Homo sapiens: one gene and its partners. The protein of the gene in region 6 interacts with the protein of the main gene of each other region in a pairwise test. Each region holds a gene or a part of one and is shown on either strand. Other genes may lie near its edges. The genes, in order: ARHGEF37, CAGE1, GAS7, CCDC180, GOLGA6L1 and MECOM.

What was found.
Region 1: the proteins of MECOM (region 6) and ARHGEF37 interact in a two-hybrid assay, tested with the Homo sapiens proteins (one study listed by BioGRID).
Region 2: the proteins of MECOM (region 6) and CAGE1 interact in a two-hybrid assay, tested with the Homo sapiens proteins (one study listed by BioGRID).
Region 3: the proteins of MECOM (region 6) and GAS7 interact in a two-hybrid assay, tested with the Homo sapiens proteins (one study listed by BioGRID).
Region 4: the proteins of MECOM (region 6) and CCDC180 interact in a two-hybrid assay, tested with the Homo sapiens proteins (one study listed by BioGRID).
Region 5: the proteins of MECOM (region 6) and GOLGA6L1 interact in a two-hybrid assay, tested with the Homo sapiens proteins (one study listed by BioGRID).

What each region holds. Positions count from the first base shown.
Region 1 is NC_000005.10:149,587,998-149,591,497, forward strand, and holds part of ARHGEF37 (rho guanine nucleotide exchange factor 37), read left to right. Parts: intron 1-1,528; exon of another isoform or gene 1,529-1,645; intron 1,646-3,500. UniProt on the Homo sapiens protein: May act as a guanine nucleotide exchange factor (GEF).
Region 2 is NC_000006.12:7,365,743-7,369,242, reverse strand, and holds part of CAGE1 (cancer-associated gene 1 protein), read left to right. Parts: intron 1-444; coding exon 445-555; intron 556-3,358; coding exon 3,359-3,439; intron 3,440-3,500.
Region 3 is NC_000017.11:9,915,607-9,919,106, forward strand, and holds part of GAS7 (growth arrest-specific protein 7), read right to left. Parts: intron 2,494-3,500; coding exon 2,395-2,493; intron 1,736-2,394; coding exon 1,622-1,735; 3' UTR 1-1,621. UniProt on the Homo sapiens protein: May play a role in promoting maturation and morphological differentiation of cerebellar neurons.
Region 4 is NC_000009.12:97,314,159-97,317,658, reverse strand, and holds part of CCDC180 (coiled-coil domain-containing protein 180), read right to left. Parts: intron 3,267-3,500; coding exon 3,138-3,266; intron 3,042-3,137; coding exon 2,931-3,041; intron 2,809-2,930; coding exon 2,713-2,808; intron 595-2,712; coding exon 431-594; intron 1-430.
Region 5 is NC_000015.10:23,126,823-23,130,322, forward strand, and holds the end of GOLGA6L1 (golgin subfamily A member 6-like protein 1), read right to left. Parts: coding exon 2,648-3,500; intron 1,992-2,647; coding exon 1,968-1,991; 3' UTR 244-1,967; downstream 1-243.
Region 6 is NC_000003.12:169,083,007-169,086,712, reverse strand, and holds the end of MECOM (histone-lysine N-methyltransferase MECOM), read left to right. Parts: intron 1-1,669; coding exon 1,670-1,804; 3' UTR 1,805-3,206; downstream 3,207-3,706.

The DNA of each region.
Region 1 (3,500 bases), on a different chromosome or scaffold from region 6:
GCGATTCTCCTGCCTCAGCCTCCTGAGTAGCTGGGATTACAGGCGTGTGCCACCACTCCTGGTTAATTTTTTTGTATTGTTAGTAGAGACAGGGTTTCACCATGTTGGTCAGGCTGGTCCTGAACTCCTGACCCCGTGATCTGCCCGCCTTGGCCTCCCAAAGTGCTGGGATTACAGGCGTGAGCCACGGTGCCCGGCCTTTTTGTTTGTTTGTTTGTTTGTTTGTTTGTTTGCTTTGAGACAGAATCTTGCTCTGTCAGATTTTCTTTCTTACAGGGTTGTTATAAGATTTCTTAAGATAATCCAAGTAAAATATTTAATAGAGTGCCTGCACTCCATGCCAGGCTGGAGTGCAGTGGCATGATCTCAGCTCACAGCAACCTCTGCCTCCAAGGTTCAAGCAATTTTTGTGTCTCAGCCACCCAAGTAGCTGAGATTACAGGCGTGTGCTACCACGCCTGGCTAAGTTTTCATATTTTTTAGCAGAGATGGGGTTTTGCCATGTTGGCCAGGCTGGTCTCGAACTCCTGGCCTCATGTGATCTGCCCGCCTGACCTTCCAAAGTGCTGGGATTATGGGCATGAGCCACCATGCCCGGCCCCTTTATTCTTCAACAGGGTCCTTTGCTCTCATGATGTCTGAGCTTCACCTTTGACAGCTTTCTATGAACCATTCCTGGAGTCTGAGACCAGATTGTTTTCCTTTTTCCCCCCTTCCTTAAATGTTTAAATGGGCTCCTCCTGGGAGTAAGAAAGGGAAAGAAAAAAAATTAAAAATAAATAAATAAAATGGCTCCCCTTTAAAGCCTTGGGCAGCTAGCTGATGGATCCTCAACTTTCCCTGCCCAGACATTTTATCTTCTGAAAGAACTTTCAAATGATAATTTCACTTTCCCCAGGGATCAGCTTAGTTCCATTTTTCCATTCAGTTCCTCCAATTGGTCAAAACTAGGCCAGGCTCAGTGGCTCATGCCTGTTATCCCAGTGCACTAGGAGGCCAAGATGAGAGGATCACTTGAGGCCAGGAGTTAGAGACCAGCCTCGGAAACAAGTGAGACCCTGTCTCTACAAAAAGTTAGAAAATTAGCTGGGTATGGTGGCACATGTCTGTAGTCCCAGCTATGTGGGAGGATTGCTTGAGCCCAGGATTGCATCACTGTGCTCCAGCCCTGGGTGACAGAGTGAGATCCTGTCTCTTAAAAAAAAAAAAAGTTTTGAATATTGTTTCCTCTTGTTACTTTTCTCTCTTGAAAGGGATTAAATAATCAGGATGCCCATATCATTTTTTAAAAGTTTTATTATGTTTTTAATTGACACATAATGTTTTATTAATTAATTAATTAATTTATAAGACAGGATCTCACTCTGTTGTCCAGGCTGGAGTGCAGTGGCATGATCACTGTTCACTGTAGCCTCAACTTCCAGAGTTCAAGCGATCTTCCCACCTCAGCATTCCAAGTAGCTGGGACTACAGGCATGCACCACCATGCCTGGCTAATTTTTTGTTTTGTTTTGTTTTTGAAACACAGTTTCCCTCTTGTTGCCCAAGCTGGAATGCAGTGGCGAGATCTCAGCTCGCTGCAACCTCTGCCTCCCAGGTTCAAGTGATTCTCCTGCTTCAGCCCCCCGAGTAGCTGGGATTACAGGTACCCGCCATCACGCCTGACTAATTTTTGTATTTTTAGTAGAGACAGGGTTTCACCATGTTTGCCAGGCTGGTCTTGAACTCCTGACCTCAGGTGATCCTCCCGACCTAAGGTGATCCTCCCGTCTTGGCCTCCCAAAGTGCTGGGATTACAGGTGTGAGCCACCATGCCCGGCCGCCTGGCTAATTTAAATTTTTTTTTTTTAATAGAGATGGGGTCTCACTGTGTTTCCCAGGCTGGTCTCCACCTCCTGAGCTCAAGCAATCCTCCCACCTTAGCATCACAAAGTGTTGGGATTACAGGCATGATCCACTGTGCCCAACCTACATCATGTTTTAATTTAAATAGTTCCTCTGCTTTTAGTGGAGTGAAACCTGGAACAAATAACCAGATATTTTAAATACCTTATCCTAATTGTAGACCCACTTTTTCCTGATCTTTGTATTTCTGGAATCCTGCAAAATGCTTGGCATGTAGTAGTTGCTCCAAATACTTGTTGAATGAATGTGGGAATGCCCAAATCCCTCTGTGCCAGTGTGAACAGAAGAGAAGAGAGAGAAAAGAATTAACTCAGTTTTATTCTGTTCTAGAATCAGAAGCAGTAGCTTGCTGCAGAAGTATTAACTGCAGATCATTCAACTTTTTTTTTTTTTTTTTGAGATGGAGTCTCACTCTGTTGCCCAGGCTGGAGTGCAGTGGCACAATCTTGGCTCACAGCAACCTCTGCCTCCCGGGTTCAAGTAATTCACCTACCTCAGCCTCCTGAGTAGCTGGGATTACAGGTGCACACCAACATGCCTGGCTAATTTTTGTATTTTTAGTAGAGACGAGGGTTCACCATGTTGGTCAGGCTGGTCTCGAACTCCTGACCTCGTGATTGGCCCACCTTGGCCTCCCAAAGTGTTGGGATTACAGGTGTGAGCCACCGCGTCTGGCCTGGCTATTTTATTCTTTTTTTTTTTTTTGAGGCAGAATTTCACTCTTCTTGCCCAGGCTGGAGTGCAGTGGTGTGATCTTGGCTCTTGGCTTACTGCAACCTCTGCCTCCCAGGCAGAGAATGGCTGCCACCTCAGACTCCAGAGTAGCTGGGACTCCAGATGTGCACCACCACACCCGGCTAATTTTTTTGTATTTTTTATAGAGATGGGGTTTCACCACGTTGCCCACTGTGGTCTCAAACTCCTGAGCTAAAGTGATCCTCCCGCCTCGTCCTCCCAAAGTTCTGGGATTATAGGTGTGTTCTGTAATTTAATTGAGGTGGTGGCTACACCAATCTACACTTAATAAAATACAATAGAACAATCAAACACAAACATGTATTATACCAATGCCCATTTCCTGGTTTTGATGTTGTGCTATATTTAAATAAGATGTAACCACTGGGGAAACATGAGTGAATAGTACAGAGGACCTCTTTTAGGTCTTTTTTTCTTTTTTGAGACAGAGTCTCTCTCTGATGCCCAGGCTGCAGTGGCACAATCATGGCCATGCCTTGCATGGCTCTCTGTGGTCTCAACCTCCTGGGCTCAAAACAGTCCTCCTGCCTCAGCCTCCTGAGGAGCTAGGACTTTTGTGTTCCATCTCAAAAAAAAAAAAAAAGTTGAATGTTCCAGAGTTAATACTTCTGCAGCAAGCTATTGCTTCTGCCCAGGCTGGTGTCAGACTCCTGAGCTCAGTCAATCCACCCACCTCGGCCTCCCAAAGTTTGAGGATTACAGGCGTGAGCCACCGTGCTCGGCCAGCCTTTGTCTTTTTTTAAGAGATGAGGTCTCTCTCTATTGCCCAGGCTGGAGTGCAGTAGTGCCCTCATAGCTCACTGCAGCCTTGAACTCCTGGACTCAAGTGATCCTCCCTC
Region 2 (3,500 bases), on a different chromosome or scaffold from region 6:
TGAGGTCAGGAGTTCGAGACCAGCCTGGCCAACATAGTGAAACCCCATCTCTACTAAAAATACAAAAATTAGCTGGGCATGGTGGCGGGTGCCTATAATCCCATCTACTTGGGAGGCTGAGGCAGGAGAATAGCTTGAACCTGGGGGGAGAGGTTGCAGTGAGCAGAGATCGCGCCACTGCACTCCAGCCTAGGTGAAAGAGCAAAACTCTATCTCAAAAAAAAAAAAAAAATTAAAATAAAAAAAATGAAATCTTTCTGTACTAACCCTTTATTGGATGCCTTCTGATAAGTAATTGAGGAATGGAGTTCAATATGATTTTACCTCTTTTGATTGGCTTACTTATTGAAAGGAGATTTGTTTTTGTTTCATATGCATAGTTTTGGCCTCATTTTAGCTTTAGTAAAAACTTTTTCATCTAGCTTCTGAAACTCTTACCCTTAGGACATCATCAATTCTGATGCTGAACATTTCAAAGAGAGTGAGAAGGTTAGTGATATAATGCTGCAAAAACTGAAGAGCCTCCATCTTAAAAAGAAAACTTTAGATAAAGAGGTATTATATTTATTCTTCTTCTAAAAATTTTATTATTTTTAGTGAAAAAATAGTTAAAAGGTAGTGAAGAAGTAACTCTTAAAGTTGGAATCATTTTAAAAATTATTTTGGGGGACCAGATTAGTTTTACTGTGCCCCTCACTAAAGAGATAAAATGTTCAACATTTGACTTGTTTTATTGTTTGTCTGTATGGGAAAATCTCATTCACCTACAAAAAATTTAGTATGATAAATTTTTTCATTTTTGCACGGCACTACTGATTCCTGAAGGGTTGTTTATTTTGACTTTCCTATAGTGATTTCAAACTTCATCCTTTGGAATAACAGAAACATTGAAAATAATTTTATTTCTCAGGTGGCTGAAGGGTGAGGGCAGAGGTTCTTGGATTGTCTTTAGTTACTCTTTTCTTTAATTTTTTTTTTTTTTTTTTTTTTGAGACAGAGTCTTGCTCTGTTGCTCAGGCTGGAGTGCAGTGGCATGATCTTGGCTCACTGCAGCCTCCGCCTCCCAGGTTCAAGTGATTCTTCTGCCTCAGCCTCCCAAGTAGCTGGGATTACAGGCGTGTGCTGCCACGTCCAGCTAATTTTTTGTATTTTTAGTAGAGACGGGGCTTCACCATGTTGACCAGGCCGAATTTAATGAAATGCAGCCATTGAACTCCTGACCTCAGGTGATCCACCTGCCTTGGCCTCCTAAAGTGTTGGGATTACGGGCGTGAGCCACTGCACCCGGCCTCAAGTACTCTTTTCTAGGTGTGGTAGTATACAGATTGAAGGATAAAATGAAGAGAATTAAATAAGGAAGGTGATAACAGGATGTCAAATTGTACCATTTTGAATCTGAGAGGAATGCAGACATGAAAATTTTATCTGGCTAAAGGAATCAAAACGTATTCAAACCTGGAATCTTGGATCATAACAAATTCATTCTGTAACACTTATCTGAACTGACGTGTTGCGGGTATCCTGAAGAATCTCTCTGCCTCCTAGCCAGCCTGTAGAGGACAGGACCAAAGTATGAGCACAGTCATGCAGAGAAACGGCTGGCCTCTACTCCTCTAAACAGCTTTCAAAAATAAGCCCAACTGAGGTTGTTACAAAAATACAATTTCAGGCTGGGCACAGTTGCTCATGCCTGTAATCCCAGCATTTTGGGAGGCTGAGGGAGGCGGATGGCCTGAGCCCAGGAGTTTGAGACCAGCCTGGGAAACATGGGGAAACTCCGTCTCTACAAAAAATACAAAAATTAGCCAGGCGTGGTGGCACACACCTGTGTCCTAGCTATTCCGGAGGCTGAGGTGCGAGGATCACCTGAGCCCAGAAAGGTCGAAGCTGTGGTGAGGCAAGTCTCAAAACACTGTCTCAAAACAAACAAACAATAACAACAAAAAGCAAAAAAAAAAAAAAAATCCCCCAAATATTTCTTTCAGATATTTATGTTCTTTTGGTTAATTTTTTCTGTGTAATTACTGAAGTATTGACAGGTGATATGATGTCTGCAGTTTGATTCAGTGAAGGGGGATGGAGGGAAGAGGGCAGTGATTGAGGATATAATGACATTGACCATTAGCTGTTAATTATTGAAGCTGAATGATAGTTACGTGGTGTTCATTAAAGTTTTTTCTATTTTAAATATTGGAAAATGTTTGCAATAAAGAATAAAAAATATTTTGCACACCACACTTCACTAATCAGTTTGAATATTGGATATTAAGATTATTATTATACTGAAGGAATAAATAAGAAATGATTATAAATTACGCCCAGATTTGGCTAATTTTTTTCTTTAAGGAAAAATTTTAATAGCCTGACTGTAATAACAATCGTTATGTTAGGATAACTCCTTGGAGACCCCGAGACCACCCCCAGGTTTGATGATTAGCTGAAGGACTGTGAGTCGTCCTCACAGCTATGACTTACCACAGCAAAGGATACAATGCAAAATCAGCCGAGGGAAAGGCACAGGGGCATCGTCTAGAGAAAGCAAAACTCAGGCTTCCAAGAGTCCTCATGGAGTCACACAGGATGCATTTCGTTCCCCCAGCAATGAGTTGCAACCACAGGTGTGGAAGTGTCATCTACCAGCGAGGCTTCTTAGAGACCCAGTGCCCCAGGTTTTTATCAGGAGCTGTTCACATAAGCACCCTCTGCCTAGTGCGTACCAAAATTCCAGACCCCTGGAAGGAAAGTAGATGCCCATGCTTTGGGCAAGTAGGTTGAGCACCATAAGCCATTTACATCAGAGAATGGTGGAAAACTTTCTGCAGTCCAACTTTCCAAATGCCAGTCATGGGGCAGCCTTGCCAGCAGGCCTCTCTAAGCCTAGCAGTCTTGGACCTGCTGTGTGAATTCTTTTCCTCACAAGAGCTATAAAAACATATTTTTTGTATGTTTTTTGAAGACTGTTAGACTGCATGGTTTGATTTTTTTTTTTTTTTTTTTGAGACAGAGTCTTGCTCTGTCGCCCAGGCTGGAGTGCAATGGCGCCATCTCGGCTCACTGCAACCTCCGCCTCCCAGGTTCAAGCAATTCTCCTGCCTGAGTCTCCTGAGTGGCTGGGATTACAGGTGCCAGCCACCATGCCCGGATAATTTTGGTATTTTTAGGAGAGACAGGGTTTCACCATATTAATCAGGCTGGTCTTGAACTCCTGACCTGAGGTGATCCACCCGCCTCAGCATCCCAAAGTGCTGGGATTATAGGCATGAGCCACTACGCCCGGCCCGGTTTGATTATTTTATTATAAATATTAGAGCGTAGTTGTATTTTCTCTCTAAAATACAGAATGTTTTCCTTTTCTTAGCTACTGAAACATAAAGATAGAATCACAACCTTTAGAGAGTTAATTGCTAAGGAAAAAGCATTTCAAGATCATGCTATTAAGGTGAGCTTAATATTTACTACGTACTATCTTTAACATAAAAATATACAATTTCAGGTATTTA
Region 3 (3,500 bases), on a different chromosome or scaffold from region 6:
TTCAATGAAAGAGGCGCCAAAAAATTAGAGATTAATAAGTCATCGGTTTCTAGCACGTTGACTGAAAGACCAGTGAGTTGTGCTTGTTGAATTCTGCCCTCACTGCAGATGTGCAGGTCAAACCCAAAGTGGTCAATGGGAAAGATGAAGAAAGATGGATTTCCAGGGCATGGGCTCCCGACTAGAATCTGCCCCTCGCTCATGCTTCTCCCGGCCCCTTTAGACTCTTTAGACTGACATGGTGGAGAATGTGTTTGCTGTGGTAGAGAAAGGGAGAAAGTAATGAGCTGGGCCAAACAGCAGCACTGAAAGCTTCCCAAGTCACACTCAGACCAGACTTTTCCAGGGATTGGAAGATGGAGAGAGGGAAAGGAGGTGCAGACACCAAGTAAGGGTTTGGTGCAGGGCTCTGGAATGTCCAGAAGGAGCGGGAAGCAAAGGTGGCGGGACACTGCCTGAAAGGCGACAACCTAGTGTGGCCACAAGAGAGTCTGCTATGCCTGTCCAGTGCCCACCAGTGACAGAAAACTGTACAAGGGACAGCAGTCCCAGCCCTGCCATACACAAGAAGACAGAGCCATCTGGGGGATGGCAAAGACTTGCCCTAACCCATCTCACATGTAGGACTGACCCGGCCCCATTAAGAGCCTGTGGTGGGCGGCCCGGGAGAGTGGGGGCCAGGGCAGCCCAAAGGTGCACAGGGCACCGTGGCGGACAGGCCCCAGCTTGCTGGCCTCTGAGACGAGCTGGTTTGTTTCCATCCCTGAAGCCTTTGGACGAGCTGGATGAGGTCTTGATAACTGAGAACTTTGGAAAGCTTCCTCTAATGAGACTGGGAAGGGCTGGCAGGGTGGGGGCAGGGGCCTCCCCGAGGAAGCAGCTGGGGGAAGGATGGATTGGCATTTCCAGAGGAGACTTTACAGATGGCGCCTGATCTCATGGGACACGATTCAGCGCTCAATTTGGGGCTAATTTGCCGAATGAGGTAGTTCCATCCTGACCTCTCCAGGCATGGTGGGTCTGGGAAGACAGGAGCCAAGCCTTCCTCCTAAAACCCCTGGTGATGAACAGTGGCTGAGAAAGCCAGATGTGGACTCCCAGAATGCAATGGGAAAAAAATAAAGAAGGAGGGCTGCAAAGGATTCTGGGTGCGGCTGTGAGCTGAATGGCACCTTCTACCCATGATTCTGATCCTGACACCTGGCTTAGAGACAGAGCCCTCCCTACCCTGATCCTCCAAAGCCCTGGAGACAAGGGAGCCAGCTGGAGGAAGAGCCTTGGGGCTTCCAGGGCACAAGCATGTGACAGTGACCCCTACAAAACTCGGCAAGGACCACAAAGTTCCAGCCTCTGTTTGTTTCAGAGCGGCAAGCACAGCATGGGAGTCAGGGGGTCTTCAGCCTCAGAGACAAGGGCAGGGCTGTGGGTCTGTCTTCTGGGCCTGGGAATATGGGGGAGCCCCCAGCTAGGCTGTCCGGGTCACCCTTCTGGAATCACCAGCTCTCTCCCCTCTCCTCAGTGGCCCAGGAGAGAGGGTGGGGGGCATCCACTCGGCATGGGCCCCATGGTGGGAGCCCAGCCCCCCTCCCCAGCAGGACCCCCCGAAGCTGCACAGGCCCATCTAGATCTCCATGTCCACAGGGCGGATGTTGCCCGTCTTGTGCTCTCTGACCCACAGCTCCCTGTCTTTGGCCGGGTCCACTTTTCGAAGCAGCTGATCCACGGGCTCGACTGTCTGCAAGAGACAGAGAAAATGCGACACTGTTAGAGACGGCGGCCAAGCCAGGGAGGTCTCCTCTGAGACATGCTGTCCTCACCTTAGTGTCTCTGAGAGCAGCCTCTCTAGAGGGCTCCGGGGCCCCAGGGGGAGGCCCATCTGAGGGACAGCACATGAAGAGGGCTGTGAACGGGGAACCCAGTATGCATCCCGACCCTGCTTCTCACCCTGCAGACCCCAGGCCTGGATGAGAGGCCAGGAGGGCCTTAAAACCTGTCTCTATCCCTTCCACCCCACATTTACCACCAGTGAACAGGACAAATAAAACTTGAGCTTTAGGTATTGTGAATATTTCTAGAAGTTGTTTTTTTTGGTTTTGTTTTTTAAGAAATTTAATAATGTCTTCAGCTACTGTAACTGTTACGAGCTTCTTTCTCCTCAGGGTAACAGCTCACGTGTGTGTCCACTTCATGTGCCAGGGTCGGAATCACACAGACGTCCAGGACAATCCTGAGAGGCCCAGTCCACGAGGCCACCCCCAGGCCAGAGCACCTGCCCACTGCCCGCCTTTAGGGCAGATTCACTTGCAGCAGCCACTTAACCTGCCACGGCCTAGCGCCAGGCGGCTCTCCCCAGGCCCCGTGTCGCCCGGGAGCCCCGCTGGGCTGGAAACTCACGCTTTGGTTGAACATGTCTGTTTCATGCCGCAGCTGCGTGTACTGGCACAGGTGCTGCCGGATCATCTCTACCCTCTCCACCTCCAGCCGCTCTAGCTCCTGCCGAGAAAGCAAAGGCCAGAGAACTCTGAGCACGTCCCCTCCACTTGGGGGTCCCCCCACCAAGACCACAAAACGCAAGTCACTGGCTGTGGACATTCTGTCCCATCTGACTCTCTGGGGTCTGATGAAGAGCGTGCCCCATATCTAAGGTGAAGGTGAAGCTGATGACAGCAGCAGCGGCTGTTTTACTTCCTGAAATCCTGCTCCGCCACGCACAGTGCTGAGGGCTTTACGTGCGTTCCTTAACTGTCCTCGTTACAATTTTAAGAGATCGTTTCTGTTATTATCCCCATTCTCCAAGCAAGGGAACTGGGGAACTAACACCTAGAGAGGCAACAACACAGCTCACCCAAAGCGACACGGAATTATGGGAGGAACAGGATTTAAACCAGAGTCCATCAGGCTGTTACTCATGGCAATGCACCCATGCAGCCCTGGCCCTGGTGCCCTGATGGGGTATAACAAGGGGGCACATGTGGGAGCTCCATGCCACACATTCCTGGGACCTTGTCCCTGGGCCTCTGCTGAGCAGCCTCCCTTCCTCTGCCTATGCCTAGTGCTGTGGCCGCAATAGAGACCGGGCCAGGGAGGCAGACTGGGCTGCACGTGGCACAGCTTTTGTCAAAGGGGAGCGTGGAAAGGGTTTGTCCTCTGGTTTCTAGATGGTTTTGTGTCTTTGGAATCTAGGGGATCCGGCTGTTACTCTGCATACAACTAGGTCACTGCCCAGGTGATTAATCAGAAAGGGGGGTAAAGCAGGGGGCTTAATTAGGAGATTAACCAGGAGGAAAACTAGGTCACTGTCCCTGGTGGAGGCCTCTAATCTGCTCTGGTGGGCTGACACCTGGGGAAGGCAGCTGGTTAGTCCTGTGCTGGATGGACAGGGGTGGCTTTAGGCAGTGGGCTGATCCGATGAGCACCTGGCATGATGCCTCCTGTCCCATCTGGCCCAAGTACCAGCCACACTTCACTGTCCACTCAGGCAGGTGCTGACTGATAAGGAG
Region 4 (3,500 bases), on a different chromosome or scaffold from region 6:
CCCAAGAGTTGGGAAGTGTTTGCCTGAAGGATGTCCACTTGTTCAGGCCCAGTGTCCACAGGGTTATGAGTGATAATAAAGAGTGGAAATTATACAGATAATTGGATGAATGTTTTCCAGCTGTATGGAGCTCAGAGAATGGTCATGAAGCAAGGTTCATGAATAAAATATGAAACTGCATATACTCTATGGATCTAAAAGAGCCTGGGAGAAAATATACCAAAATATTTGCTGTGCTTCTCACTGTGGGGAGAGATTAGTGGTGATTTTTAATTTATTCTTTATACCTTTATCTATTTCTAACTTTAAAAAGAGCAGAGAGAAACAGCAGCATTTTTAAGTAATGGCAAAAAGTGAGGGAGAATGCCGCCCCTACCCTTTGCCAGCCCCCCTGGTGGGCTGGAGAAGGAGCTGTGTGGGCGGCACTGACCTGAAACTCTGCAGCAGGGCCTCCTTCTTGAGAGCCTTCCAGGTGTCCACCAAGCCTTGCCAGCGGTGGCGGCTGTCCAGCTCCTGCTGCAGGGTGGACTCCATCAGGTTGACAAACAGCTGGGCGAGAGCCTTCCGGTTGCCCAGCAGGGCATAGTTCATGACCTGTGGTCACAGATGGGCAGGGCTCTAGACAGGGCAGGGTCTCTCTCGGGTCAGGGCAAGGCTCAGTTAGAGAGGAGCAGTGGGAGGCTGGAGAGGGGAGGTGCAGGGTGAGGGCCAAGTGGGGTGGTTGCAGGGCCTGAAGGGGACTGAGGGGTCAGTGGGCACTCGATGAAGCTTCCTGGCACTGAGTAGCCATGGACAAGGGTCTTCCTTGAAGGCTTAACCACAGACCCTGACTGCATGAGCTTCAGCTCAGCTCCAAGGTCACTTCAGATGGTTTGTTAAAGAAGGTGAAAGGAGGCAGGCACTCAGTGAGCTCTAAGTGTTTACTCTTTTTTATAAATTTCTTCCAAAAGCAGAGTGCTCGTGCCATCAGGGACGAGCCACATATGGTTGTTAGGAGAACCGAGACCCAATGGCAAAATGAGGCCAGAGCTAGAACATTCTTCAGCAGTCCTCCCATGGCTTCTCACCTGGGCACCCCTGGCATGGGCGTGGGATGATCCTCCATTGCATGGCACTGTTTTGCCCTTTAGCATACTTGCCCCTGCTTAGATGAGAGTAACTTCCCCCATCCTCCCTGGCCCCAAATGCCTCCACACATTTCCCAAAGCCCTCCAGGGAGGTGGCAGTATGCTGGGGCAGTGGGTGAGAACCCTGCCAAGCTCAGAGACTAGAAATTCCAGTAATGCTTTTCAGTGGAGCCTGAGGCTTGATTTAGCTGTACTTCCTAGCTGGGTGGCACTGGCAAGTATTTCCTCAACCTACAGATCCACAGCCGTAAGATGGGGTTCATGCTATTTATAGCATAGGGATTTTGTGAAAATAAATGAGAAAAATGCAGGTAGAACAAGTAGCAAATGCAAGTTGTAATAATGAGTAGAAGCACAAGGAAGGGAAGCAGTGAAACACATCCGGGACACTGAAATCCTTGACTCTTCTATTGGATAAAATGTGCACAACTTAGGAGCCCTCGCTGATCTCAGAAGACAGCTACCACAGCTGGACCCTCTTTTATTATCCTCCCAACAAGTCCTGACAGGTATTACAGGCAGTCCCCGACTTACGATGGCTTGACATGATTTTTCAACTTTATGATGGGTTTATGAAGGTGTTAAATGCATTTTTGACTTTCTACATTTTCTACTTATGATGAGTATACTGGGATGTGACCCTATCGTAAGTGGAGGAACATCTATATTATCTTCATTTAACGACGCAGCAAGCTCCAGGCTCAGGGGCTGAGTCATTTCAGAAGCTTCCACATCTGGGCAGTGGAAAAGGCCTGTGCTCACTCCTTGCCTGTGCTTTATCTGGGTCGCCATGGAGCTGACATGGGCTGGACCCATCTGTGATTCAGAACACTGTCCTCTTTTCAGCCTACTGTGCTGCCAGGAGGCCCCTTTTCCAGCAAGCTCAGCTCACTGCACAAGACCAGGAAACCCACAGTGTGCCTTTGGGCAGCCAAAAGAGGAGTCCTCTCTAGCAGCAGAGGAGTTAGACTTTGCTCTGACCTTGGAGACATCATGAACAACCTTGAATTTTGTGTTTTCCACCCCAAGGAAAGCAGCTGTGGGGAGGGGTGCTAGGGGCATGGACAGGGGAAAGCAGTGGGGACAGAGCCAAGAGGCAGGCTCAGCAATGGGCACAGACCACTGGTAGGAAGAGAGGCAAGAAGAGGCAGAAAAGCCAGACATAGCAGGCAGAGCAGATCACTCATGAAGGTGGAAACCACCCTGAGACCACCGTAGCCCCCCGATGACTCCATAGTGTAGCGCCTATTGCATTGCACACAGTTGCTGAGACATGACCTAGTAGGTGCTCATTAACATCATCAGCGCTCCAGACGATAGCCCTATATTAGGTGTGCCTGGTTCAAGATGTCAGGGAAATATGAAATGTACTTTAGAAAGATCTCTATTGAAAAGAGAGATAGCAAGGACTACAATAGCAAGGACTCTGCTTCTCTACCTCAGAGGCCCACCTGAGCCCCTTAGAAACGTTATAGATGAGAAGCCCACCATTCCTGAGACACCAGACACCAGGCTCGGGGTGCCCTGGGTTCCTGGTCCTGCCCCTTCTCCCATGGGCTGATCCCTGCACAGGAAAACCACTCACCATGGCTTCTTCATTTATCAGCCTGTACACTTCGGGCCGCATGAGGTAGGAAGTTTTCTCTATGACTTCTGCATATTTCTTCAACACGCTTTTTAGCTAGAAATGACAAGGCACCATACTTAGTGGCTCACTTCCTGGAGAACTAAAAGGAAACAGAAGGATGCCTAATAAACCCGGCAAGTGACAGTCACCACACAGCCCACCTGCAGCCGACTTACTTTATCGGTTCGGGAGAACTCCAGCGAGTGCAGGGCCTCATCCAGCTCCTTAATCTCCTGCTTCCGGAGCAGTAACCGCCCGGCCACCTTATCCCACAGCTCCAGCAGGGCCTACGCAGAGAAGTTTGGGTCAGGCTAGGAGCCGGTGGGAGGCAGGGAAGAAGCAGGACCTGGGTGGGGCAGGCCCAGCCACGAAGGGACCCCTACTTGGATGGTGTAGTCCTCAAGGTTGGTGTCATTTTCCACCTTTAGGAAGAGACGGTTCATTTCTTCATCAGACTCAGTCAGCTTCTTCAAAAAAAGTCCCCCTGTGTCCACGATGAGAGGTTCCATTTCCTGCAACAGGCCAGGGGTATGATGGCCAAGGCATCAGCACCCCTGGGAAGGAGGGAGCCTTCCCTGTCATGGGGGAAGTGCCAGGCATGGTTCTATCTCAAAAATGATGATCATTGCCTAGACCTAACGAGTTGAGGCTCACTACTCAGCTCACAACCACGCCACACGCTCTGCGCTGAGCCCTCCTTCTTGGCTCATTTGATCCTCATCACAGTCTTTGAATTGGCTGCTGAC
Region 5 (3,500 bases), on a different chromosome or scaffold from region 6:
GATGTGGAGGGCAGTAGAGTTGTGTGTGCTCCGCCCCCTTTCTCCACAGTCGGATGGAAAGAAGGGGGCTTTCAGCCAGGCTCGCCCAGGCTGGGGTCTGAGTGTCACTGTCCAGCTATTGGCTTCTTGCTTAATGGGTGAGCCCAGCTGCTCCCGTGCAGCTGCCGCCCTAGTGAGGGTGAACCGGCAGGCGAGTTACATTTCTGAAAGCCTGGGAATACAGTAAATATTAGGCTGTGGGCTGCTGGGCCAGGAAGAGTTGTTTATTTTTCAGGGTTTGTTTATCTATTGACTTGATGAGGGAGGGTTATAGGTACAACCAGTTTAAAGATGGAAATTTTGAGAGAGCAGGCAGGGATTTAGTGCTGGGTAAGCCTGGTCAAAGCGGCTCTTTTGGGGCGGCCAGAATCCAGTACCAATGTCCTCAGCATGTTCATCAGCTGCTGGGGGAGTGCGGGACAGCATGAAAGCACAGGAGAACTTTCTGGATGATAGAAATACTCTGTATCTTCAAAGGAGGTGGGTTCCATAGTAATGTTAAATGAGTTAAAACTCATCAAAATGTAAACCAGACCTGTGCATTTCACTAATAGAAATTATACCTCCAATTAAAAACATGTTTTAAAAGACAGATGGGCCGGATGCAGTGGCTCATACTTGTAATCCCAGCACTTTGGGAGGCTGAGGCAGGTAGATCACCTGAGTCAGGAGCTCGAGACCAGCCTGGAAAACATGGTGACATCCTGCCTCTATTAAAGGTATAAAAAAAAATTAGCCAGGCATGGTGGCACACGCTACGCGGGAAGCTGAGGCAGGAGAATTGCTTGAACCCAGGAGGCAGAGGTTACAGTGAGCAGAGATCGTGCCATTGCACTAGAGCCTGGGCAACAGCGCAAGACTCCATCTCAACAACAACAAAAAAAGGACAGATGAAGGTTTTCAACTTTCAGTAAAGGCAGAGGAGCTTGTTACAGATTCGCCTCCCCACAAGAGCAGTTAGAAAAACTGGATAAAAATGTGCCCCGCCCCCAATCAAAAACAATTGTTGGAAGGTAATTGGAGACCTCAGTCAGGACTTGAGTGACCAGGCCTAGGAGGTGATCCTGACAGTCTGTAGTGCTTTCCCACATTTGGTGATTGGTCAACAGTAGAGGGCTAAGAGGCTAAGAAACTGAGTATGAAGTGGTAGTTAAGAGGCTGGAGAGCCTAGCTGAATGTTTGGCACTCTCACAGGGCTGAAATGACCTAATGAGAATTTGGGTCCCAGGAAGGAGATGGGACCTTGGTGGGGACCCTGGAAGGGCCACCCCTGGGAGTCCAAATGAATAAAACATAGACCAGCCATCAGAAAACCTAAAACCTGCTTTGAACCAGCTTAGTCCCAAAGTAGATGAAGGCGATCTGCCCTTACTCCAATTGTGTGCCATAAACTCAAAGTCAATACTCTCTGGAGGCAGATAAAAGTTTACTATGAATGTCAAAAGACAACACAAGACTAAATGAGAAAGACCAAGAAGAAAACTAATAGAAACATACATGTAAGGAAGAAACTTTTTTTTTTGAGACGGAGTTTCGCTCTGTCACCCAGGCTTGAGTGCAGTGGCACGATCTCAGCTCACTGCAACCTCTGCCTCCCAGGTTCAAGCGATTCTCCTGCCTCAGCCTCCCAAGTAGCTGGGATTACAGGCATGCGCCACCATGCCCGGCTAATTTTTGTATTGGCCAGGCTGGTCTTGAACTCTTGACCTCAGGTCATCCATTTACCTCGGCCTCCCAAATTGCTAGGATTACAGGCGTGAGCTACCATGCCTGGCCAGTATTTTGCCACAATTTAAAATAAATAAAATTTTTTTTTCAGGTTTGTGCTCAGACTATATTCTAAACAGTCACATGGCGGCTTACTCTTCTCCAGGCCTTGCTGCCGGCTTTTACATGTTTATTGTCTTTGCCTTCTTGTCATGTGCTCATTAGATGGCAGCTTCCAGGTGCTCCTAAGGGGCCAGGAAAGAGAGTGAGAAGGCACGGAGGTTGCCAGATCATCCCCCTTGGGGCCCCGCCCTCATCAACTCCCTCAACCGGGTCTCCTGCAACTATTGGTGGGCCATCTCGGCCACCGCTTCGCCCTGAGCTTCCTGCTGCTGCAGCTGGGCAGTGCCTCCTTCTCAGAGGCCAGCTGCTGATAGGCGGCCACGTACTGCTGCAGGTGACCCAGGTAATGGTCTCGCTGCTGCTGCAGACTCAGCCTCTTGGCTCTTCAGCTCCACCTGCAGGATAGGCGTCAGGGTAGGTAGTGGCTGGCTTCCAGATTCTGGGCCCATAAACAGGGTAGTGAGGGCACTGCGGGGCTCTGTCGCCTACCCAGGCCCCTGGCCCTGGCCCCTTCCTCCAGGCCTAAATGACTGCCTCCCTTGCCTAGAGGCCCATGCCTCCCTCCCCAGCCTCAAATCTCACACCCTTCTTCCCACCATTTAAACTGTAGGCCACAGACTGGTGGAAAAGCAGAGGGAGCCAACCACCATCTGCTAAGTTGTGGTGAGGTCGTTCTGTATGATCTCCAGGGTTTGCACACACCTCCGCCTGCTCCCCCCAAGAGCTCGGCCTTCTGCCCCAGCTTCCCCAGCCTCTCCTCCAGCTCCTGCAGCCTCACCTGGTGTTCCTGCATCTTCTCCTCCTGCTGCCGCAGCCTCACTTCCTGCTCCCACATCTTCTCCTCCTGCCTCCGCATCTTCTCCTCCTGTTCTTGCATCTTCTCTTCCTGCTCACACATCTTCTCCTCCTGCTCCCACATCTTCTCTTCCTGTTCCTGCATCATCTCCTCCTGCTCTCGTATCTTCTCCTCCTGCTCCCATATCTTCTCCTCCTGCTCTCGTATCTTCTCCTTCTGCTCCCGTATCTTCTCCTCCTGCTCCCTTATCTTCTCCTCCTGCCTCCGCATCTTCTCCTGTTCTTGCATCTTCTCTTCCTGCTCCCCCATCTTCTCTTCCTGTTCCTGCATCATCTCCTCCTGCTCTCGTATCTTCTCCTCCTGCTCCCGTATCTTCTCCTCCTGCTCCCTTATCTTCTCCTCCTGCCTCCACATCTTCTCCTCCTGCTCCCGTATCTTCTCCTCCTGGTCGTGCATCTTCTCCTCCTGCCTCCACACCTTCTCCTCCTGCTTCCGTATCTTCTCCTGCTCGTGCATCTTCTCCTTTTGCCTCCATATCTCCTCCTGCTCCCTTATCTTCTCCTCCTGCCTCCACATCTCCTCCTGCTCCTGCCTCTTCTCCTCCTCCCGTATCTTCTCCTGCTCGTGAATCTTCTCCTCCTGCCTCCACATCTTTTTCTCCTGCTCCCGTATCTTCTCTTCCTGCTCCCGTATCTTCTCCTCCTGCCTCCACATCTTCGCCTCCTGCTCCTGCCTCTTCTCCTGCTCGCGTATCTTCTCCTCCTCCTGCCTCTTCTCTTCCTGCTCCCGTATCTTCTCCTGCTCGTGCATCTTCTCTTCCAGCTCCCGTATCTTC
Region 6 (3,706 bases):
GTAAAAATTAATTTCATGGTAATAGGTACTATTTATGTATTACCTCAGTCAGGCACACTGAGCTAAACACTTTATGTAAGTTAGTGCATGTGATTCCTCCACAACTCTTGGAGGCCAATACTGTTATTACTATCATCTGTTTTATAGGAGGAAAGTAAAGCTTAAAAGGTTAAGCAACTTGCTCAAGATCACACAGCTAGGTGAGTAGAGGCAGGTTTAAAGGCAGGATTAAAATTTAAATTCCAAAATTTTCTTTGTACTCCTTTTTATCTTCCCAAATATCAGAATTTGTTTTAACTCTTTCAGAGTACTCTTTATCTTGTTCTCTAAAAGTAGGTACATAATCAGAATAGATAATTTAGGTTGAATGCTCACTTAACCCATACTTTAAACTCTGCCAAAGATAAGTACTCTATATTATTTATTCTTAATTTCTTAGGATCTATCACAGAGCCTGGCATAGAGTAGATGCTTAAGAAATATTTGTTAAATGGATCATGAGATATTGTAGAAGTCCAAAAGGCAAATTGCATACATAAAAGTCAAATGTGTACATTTAGAGCGATGACCCAGCAAATCAAAAATCAGCCTACAAGGGTAAATTTTCTAACTAAATGCAATGATTACGGAAGAAACCACAGACTGGCCACATGTCTCAGCATGACTCCCAGAGATGAAATTCTGCCTAACAACAGAGGCATTTTGTCTTTGTTTACAGACAGTGGAATGTCTTTGGCAGGACTTTAATGATTCCACTTCAGCAGCATTTTGACAAGCAAGTTTAGCAATGGATGAGACCAACAATAGCAAATCAACAGTGAAAAGTTCACTTACAAGTCAAGACCAAACATTTCATTTGAATATTTTGCTTGGCAGTAAATAGGGGACTCTCTGAACAGTTATTTAAAATTTGACATGATAATAGGGAAGAAAGAGTACTTCCTCACAGAGCACCTCCATGCACCTTCTGCTCAGCAGACACTGGAAAACAAGTTGATTAGAACACTGTTGGGTCTTGTGTTTGGTTTTATTTTTTTGGTAGAGCTGATTTGATCCACCTCAACTTATGGGTGCCAGGACTGAGTATGTCAAGCATGGAGGGAAATTGGAGAAAAGACAATGGATTAAAAGTTGGGCAGAAATACATTTTAGTTATGCTTCTCCCACTATCTATCTAATTGAGTGACTTTGGGCAAGTCACTCAAGCACCTTCAGTGCTTTCGGTTATAAAGTGTAGGAGTCAGGCTGTATCCTCTACTAGGCCACAGCTCTGTCAAGGTAGGTCTATATCTTATTAATATTTGAGGTTTCAGTCATAAGCACACAATAATATTTTTGGTGAATTGAACATATGTAGTGGATGGATGACTGTATTTATAGTTGAACAGGAGACTGACTCATTTTTCTCAATGGAAGCACTATTTGCATTTTAGGTAGGATAGTTCTTTTTGGTTCTGTAGCGTGTGTCACTTTTGGGGCCCCTAGGCACTAAAGGCCAGCAGTAATCCCATGTGGTTTCTACAAAAAATATGCCTTCTTTGCCAAACACACCCATGAAGGATGCCCCTACTCAGGGTCCCATCCCTTTCCATTTACCAACAATATTCTTTGAACTAAAAGTGATGTTTTTCAAATGCCATTTACTGAGTCTCTCTCCTTTTTACCCCAGGCATATGCTATGATGCTGTCACTGTCTGACAAGGAGTCCCTCCATTCTACATCCCACAGTTCTTCCAACGTGTGGCACAGTATGGCCAGGGCTGCGGCGGAATCCAGTGCTATCCAGTCCATAAGCCACGTATGACGTTATCAAGGTTGACCAGAGTGGGACCAAGTCCAACAGTAGCATGGCTCTTTCATATAGGACTATTTACAAGACTGCTGAGCAGAATGCCTTATAAACCTGCAGGGTCACTCATCTAAAGTCTAGTGACCTTAAACTGAATGATTTAAAAAAGAAAAGAAAGAAAAAAGAAACTATTTATTCTCGATATTTTGTTTTGCACAGCAAAGGCAGCTGCTGACTTCTGGAAGATCAATCAATGCGACTTAAAGTGATTCAGTGAAAACAAAAAACTTGGTGGGCTGAAGGCATCTTCCAGTTTACCCCACCTTAGGGTATGGGTGGGTGAGAAGGGCAGTTGAGATGGCAGCATTGATATGAATGAACACTCCATAGAAACTGAATTCTCTTTTGTACAAGATCACCTGACATGATTGGGAACAGTTGCTTTTAATTACAGATTTAATTTTTTTCTTCGTTAAAGTTTTATGTAATTTAACCCTTTGAAGACAGAAGTAGTTGGATGAAATGCACAGTCAATTATTATAGAAACTGATAACAGGGAGTACTTGTTCCCCCTTTTGCCTTCTTAAGTACATTGTTTAAAACTAGGGAAAAAGGGTATGTGTATATTGTAAACTATGGATGTTAACACTCAAAGAGGTTAAGTCAGTGAAGTAACCTATTCATCACCAGTACCGCTGTACCACTAATAAATTGTTTGCCAAATCCTTGTAATAACATCTTAATTTTAGACAATCATGTCACTGTTTTTAATGTTTATTTTTTTGTGTGTGTTGCGTGTATCATGTATTTATTTGTTGGCAAACTATTGTTTGTTGATTAAAATAGCACTGTTCCAGTCAGCCACTACTTTATGACGTCTGAGGCACACCCCTTTCCGAATTTCAAGGACCAAGGTGACCCGACCTGTGTATGAGAGTGCCAAATGGTGTTTGGCTTTTCTTAACATTCCTTTTTGTTTGTTTGTTTTGTTTTCCTTCTTAATGAACTAAATACGAATAGATGCAACTTAGTTTTTGTAATACTGAAATCGATTCAATTGTATAAACGATTATAATTTCTTTCATGGAAGCATGATTCTTCTGATTAAAAACTGTACTCCATATTTTATGCTGGTTGTCTGCAAGCTTGTGCGATGTTATGTTCATGTTAATCCTATTTGTAAAATGAAGTGTTCCCAACCTTATGTTAAAAGAGAGAAGTAAATAACAGACTGTATTCAGTTATTTTGCCCTTTATTGAGGAACCAGATTTGTTTTCTTTTTGTTTGTAATCTCATTTTGAAATAATCAGCAAGTTGAGGTACTTTCTTCAAATGCTTTGTACAATATAAACTGTTATGCCTTTCAGTGCATTACTATGGGAGGAGCAACTAAAAAATAAAGACTTACAAAAAGGAGTATTTTTCCCCACTGTGTGGTATTTTTCCTTCATGCAATTTTACTTTCCCTTTGGGATCCAATGATTTAAAGATATGATGCTGAGATCTTGATGCCCTACAGATATGTGGAATGTAGAGTATGTTTGTTTTGTTTTGAGATAGCATAAATGATAGTTCTTGGGCAACAATGAGTCTCGCTTATTGTTCTGTACTTTCCCCATGTGGTGCAGTCAGGGCTCAAGTGCACCACAACCCAGTCCTGGTATCACTTCACGTTCACAGCATCCACTTAAATTAGGACAAAGAGCGACTTACAGGTTTTCTACGGATTGTATGCCAAAAGGAACTCAGTTTCTTATTTTTGTTTTTCATTATACGAGTAGTGTTAACTGATTCACAAAGGGGGGAAACCTTTGACTTTTCTATGCTCCTTTTAATTTTTTGTCCACATGCAAAATATCCTTTTTTCATTGTTATAACTGCGTGTAAACAAGATTTATTTTTTCTTTCTTTGCTTG